Regions from separate parts of the Homo sapiens genome. Here region 2 is linked to region 1. A link means that fine-mapping ties the variant in region 1 to the expression of a gene that starts in the linked region. Tissue or cell type: subcutaneous fat. Region 1 holds a variant in brackets; the other region holds the start of a gene. All regions are shown on one strand. Distances are from middle to middle.

Region 1 (2,769 bases):
GGCATGAGCCACGGTGCCTGGCCTCATATTTTACTTTCAAGGCGTAGTGTATAGTGCCCCGTGCTAACTAACGTATAGTAAGTACTGAGTAAATATTTGAGGAGAGGATGAGTGAATGAAAGTGCTATGTATTTATCTCTTCCAGTTCTTTTCTTGGTGGCACTGTTAGCTTATGTGGCTCCTTGGGTAAGACATTTGCCTGCCTTGTGCCAGAGCCAGCCGTGAGCTAGCACAGGGGCGAACTTCTCTTAGGTTCTGAGGTTGAAGACTTTGGACAGGTTTTGAGCTTAGATGCATATTGAATGTGTGTGTCTCCATTTTTCTTTCTAGGTCTGATGTGGCTGTGTTTCAGCCTGTGCTTATACAGTATTCAATTCACTGAAAAATAATGTGGTTGTGTAAACACTCAGAAGGAAGTGTGGTGTGACCGGTGATCACAGCTTCTGCCAGAATATCTAGAACAGGATGCATTCTGCGATGAAAGAGATGACTACAATAGCTGTAGCTATTTATTTTATAAAAAAAAATTCTTAGCCCTAGTTCATGGCCTACTTCTTCCAAGCAGTACAGGTCAAGCATCCCTAATCTGAAAAGCTCCAAAATGTGAAACTTTTTGAGCACCAACATCATGCCACAAGTGAAAAATGCCACACTCGGGTACTTAACACAAAGTTTGCTTCAGGTGCAAAATTATTTAAAATATTGTATAAAATTACCTTCAAGCTATGTGTAAAGGGGTGTCTGTGAAACATAAATAAACTTTATGTTTAGACTTGGGTTTCATCCCCAAAATATCTCAGTGTGCATGTACAAATATTCCAAAATTAAAAAAAAAATTCAAAACACTTCTGGTCCCAAGCATTTCAGATAAAGTATATTCAATCTGTATTAAATGTAACAAAATTTCAGTAACATGACAGAATCTGAGCAATGACTTGGAGGCTTATGTCACTGATTTTGCCTTACTGTGAGAATATTTGGGGAGCTGAGCCCAGGAAATGTACTTTTCCTTTTGTTCTTTTTTTTTTTTTTTTGAGATGGAGTCTCACTCTGTTGCTCAGGCTGGAGTGCAATGGTGCGATCTCAGCTCACTGCAACCTCTCCTGGGTTCAAGCGATTCTCCTGCCTCCAAGCAATTCTCCTGCCTCAGCCTCCCGAATAGTTGGGATTGCAGGCGCACACCACCGTGCCTGGCTAATTTTTGTATCTTTAGTACTAGAGATGGGATTTCACCATGTTGGCCAAGCTGGTCTCGAACTCCTGACCTCAAGTGATCCACCCGGCTTGGCCTCCCAACTCTAGCTGCAGAGTTACTTAACTCTTGGCTCTTTCACAGTATAAAGGGATTTGGAGAATTAATCTGATATTCCCAGGTTGAATTTTTTTTATTTGTTCATAAAATTTAAGCAAAAAGTATTTTTTAAAATCTTCCAGCAATTCAGGGCCTTATGTTCTGGAGAGCCGAGCATTCTAAAGAACGTAGCATCATTTCCTAGAATTTTGCATCGGTACCCTGAGCTCCTTCATGTTCTTTAACTTTCGTTCCCCAGCACATGAAACACCATGGCAGCAACCCTTATTGCTTGTGGCTACTTCTACGTCCCTCCTTTTTTTCACAGGACATTCC[G/A]TTCTTCTCACCAGCCCTAACCTGTTTGCCACTTGGCAAGCACGGGGAACAGGACTCTCCACAGTCTTACCCCGGGGACTAGTTTCAGCTTTTCAGAGAGCAAAGCTTCTGGTCCAACAGTATTTGGAAATTGAGACAATTGAGGAGAAGTAGTAATATGTTCAACTGCAGAGAATGTAGCCTTTGGCATACAAGGAGGAAGCTGTCTTGGCATCTGTCATTAGAGCCACTGGGTATTTTGGAAAAAGTCCATTTCATTCTTCCTCTTTTTGGATCCTGAAACAAGAAGCTATAGTGCCATCAGGAATATAGAGATTGGGAAGCATGGGAATGATTCAAGTAAACTTCTGAAGAAAGCGTACACCTCCAGGGTAGCTAAACAAGCAGAATGCTTGTTGGGGAAGCAAAATCATCTGAAAACAACCTGAATTTGGAGGTAATAGAAAAAAAAAGTTTTTTAAAAAATTTTATTTAAAATGGAAAAATTTAATGGTAGGATGGGAAAGTAGTACTTCTAGCTTGGTTTTGGATTCAGACCTGGATGGGAATACTAACTGTTAGAACTTGAGAAAACAATGTTAGCATCTAAACCTTAGTTTAGATGAAATGTGAAATGAGAGAATAATAGTTCATTTGTGCCCTTTTGAAAGATGTTTAAATTGTGGTAAAACACAACAACATAGAATTATCGTCTTAATCATTATAGTATAATTCAGTGGCATTAAGTACATCCACATTGGTATGCATCTGTCCCCAGAACTCTTTTTTCATTTTATAAAACTGAAAATCCACACTCATTAAAGAGTAACTCCCCAGTTTTTTCCCCCTCCTCCAGCCCCTAGTAGCCATCACTTTACTTTCTGTCTGTATGAATTTGACTACTCCAGGTACCTTGTTTAAGTGGAATCATACAGTATTTGTCATTTTATGACTGGCTTATTTTACTTAGCATAGTGTCTCCAAGGTTCATCCATGTTGTAGCATGTGTCAGAATTCCCTTTCTTCTTAAGGCTGAATAATCTTCCATCATCTGCATGTTGTCTTTATATACCATATTTTGTGTATCTATTTATCTGTCAGTGGACACTTGGGTTGCTTCCACCTTTTGGCAATTGTGAATAATACTGCTATGAACATGGGTG
Region 2 (2,769 bases), 5.8 kb after region 1:
ACGTAACATGGTGTAGCTGCTTTGAGAAACAGGTTGGCAGGTTCAGGAAAGGTTAAATATAGAGTTACTGTTGGACCTAGCAATTTCACTCATAGGTATATACTCAAGAGAATTAAAAACGTATGCTCACTCAAAAAACTTGTACATGAATGTACTTAGCAGCATTATTTATAATAGCCAAAAAGTGGAAACAATACATATCTGATGAATGAATAAATAAAAGGTGGCACAGGTATTCTATACAATGGAATATTTTCAGCAATAGGAAGGAAGAATTACTGATACAAGCTACAACACAGATGAACTTTGAAAATATTTTGCAAAGTGAAAGGAGCCAGTCACAAAAGTGCACATATTGTATAATTTCATTATATGAAATATCTAGAATAGGCAAATCTGTAGAGACAGAAAGTAGGCTAGTAGTTGCCAGGGGCTAGAGGGAAGGGTAGTGTTGAAGGAAAAGAGGGAGTGACTGATAATGGGTATGGTGTTTTTTATGTGGGTGATAAAAATGTTCTAAAATGGATTGTGATGATGGTTGCACAGCTCTGAATATTCTAAAAGCCATTGAATTGTACAATTAAAATAGGTGAAATACATGTTAAATAAGTGAATAGGTAAATTATATCTCAATAAAGGTATTTTAATAAGAGTCAGAGTGCAAAGGTAATGTCATGGACCAACTCTAAAATTAACAATTCAAACTCTTCAGTAGCAAACATTCTAAAATCTCTAGAAAAGTATCCCATACTCACATCTCATACTCACATGTGTCCACTGAGACTCGTGGGTAGTTCTTGAGATGGGAACCACTTCTGAGTCATTTTTTTTTTCAGGTTTTAGGATGAGCAACTTTGGAACGGAGGAGGCCTTTAGAAGAAAGAAGGAAGTTTTAGATCATGCCTGCAATTCAGCCTTGCAGAGTTGTTTGCCTGTTTGAATTTTCTCTTATCTCTATGGAACATTGACTACTTCCTCAGAAGCTTATACACTGTTAGAGTACTGGGTAAAATTTCATTTGAAACTACGGGAACTCCTTTGCTGACCTATTGTGGCTGTTCCTAATGTTTCTTGGCTTCATGCTGCTTAGGACCCCATGGGAAATCTTGGCAGAACACCCTGTTATACATCTATACTGAGTGCCTCTCACAGCTTCCCTTCACATCAGATTTTTCTGTTTGTCACCCGCTTTTGCCCCTTTTCCTTCTTGTCTTAAAGAGAGACATCCTTCACTCCTGTCTCTGAGGCTACCTGTCTCCTGTGTTCTTGATCCCACGTTGTCCCTTGGGACACTGCTTCATCATTTCTGTGTACCTCTCTGGCCTCTTTTGACCCTTTCCCTCATGGGCTTTTTTTCTTGGCTTGACAGTTGCTCAAATTTCCCATCATTTTTTAAGAAAGTAGTAACAAATGTACAAAAAGTCCCAAGCATCAAAACTTTCCTTAGATGTTTATGTCTTTCTCAATAGACTACAATCTTTTTATTTTCTCACAGTCAACTTTTTTTTGAAAAGTCTGTGTATTTTCCTATTTCCATTTATGTAAACTTTGAATGAAGAGACCAGAGTTACAAAGCAAAGAGCCTTGTGCTAAAATTAAGTCTAGAACATATCATACTTGGAAGCATTCTGCATGTGAAGGAGAAGTGGGGTGGCCACAAGGAGGAGAAGGCATTTTCTAAATTGTTTTTCCACGTTGTGGTACTTGAAGCCCAACGACTGTAATTAGACTCGTATTCTGGCTACAGGGCTGGATGCAGTGAGAGTGTTATTTGGTGTCCCACTTTGTTTGTTTATATTTTAGGCATTGGAGAATGGACCAGTTTCTTGGGGGAGAAAGTACCATTCTTGAGATTAAGAGATGGAAGTTCTCCCTGTACAGAAAATGCCCTGAGAGAGTCATCAAGATGTATTTGGTTAAGTGTGTTCATTTCACTTTGAATGTTAAGGTTTCTGGCATGAAGCCAGATTTCAGAATCTCAGTGATCTTGAGTGTTTAGTCTAGTCTGAGACTGATGAGTGTTCTACCAGGAAGTGAGAAGCATCAGGTTGAGAATATCATTGGGATAAGGTGAGCAGGGAATCCATTAAGGGACTAAGAGCCCTTTACTTTGATATTGAGAGGGGACACTGCCACACATGATACAAACAGCACTGATCTTGCTCAGCATCTGCAAATAAGGATCGCAGACACAACTTTTCAAATAGTCACTTCAGCCTTACCCTTCTGCTAAAGTAATTTATGTCAAGTAGGGAATAGGCTTTTCAATGTCATCCAAACCCCCTGCTTAGGGAAGGGGCATTCGTTTGTAAACACACTACAGAGCTATTGAAGAATACAAAACTTGGTGACCTTATCTGTAAAGCTGGTGTGGTACCCTTCTCAAACACCAGAGCACCGTTTAGTGAGAAAATCAGCTAGTCGATTGCCCAAACGTTTTCCATTTTAGCATCAGAGGAACCAAAGTCCAGGAAGGTGAAAATATGTTGGGCAAAGGTCGTGGCAATTTAGTTTTTTGATTGAGTCTAGATCTCCCTGGATAGACCTGGGTCGTGTCAAAACAGTTTCTGGTAAACAGTTTTATAACCTGCCTCTGTGATCCAGAAGAGCCTGGACATGTGAGTAGAAAGCCTGTACAGTGGATTTAATCCTGGACTTTTTCCTTTGGATACCAGAATTTATATATAGCCCTGACATAGTTCAGCAATAATCCTTACACGAGCTAGTGGAAACAGACTTGTGATGAAGAGTAATTTCAGCTGAAGGACT

What was found. PIP is the estimated chance that this variant, and not a neighbour inherited with it, causes the effect.
Region 2: it holds the start of MAP2K6-AS1, and the variant in region 1 is fine-mapped to the expression of MAP2K6-AS1 in subcutaneous fat (GTEx, PIP 0.95). The same link has a PIP of 0.9 or more in skeletal muscle.

The regions. Positions count from the first base shown.
Region 1 is chr17:69,478,702-69,481,470 of GRCh38, forward strand. All of the region lies in intron 1 of MAP2K6 (mitogen-activated protein kinase kinase 6), which reads left to right. All of the region lies in intron 1 of MAP2K6-AS1 (MAP2K6 antisense RNA 1), which reads right to left. Among named protein-coding and RNA genes, the nearest start is that of MAP2K6-AS1, 5.4 kb to the right of the region's middle. The variant G/A (reference allele first, on the strand shown) is at 1,628.
Region 2 is chr17:69,484,480-69,487,248 of GRCh38, forward strand. MAP2K6-AS1 (MAP2K6 antisense RNA 1) reads right to left here and starts at 1,053. Exons shown (of 2, transcript NR_145982.1): 1 at 769-1,053. The region is part of intron 1 of MAP2K6 (mitogen-activated protein kinase kinase 6); the gene reads left to right.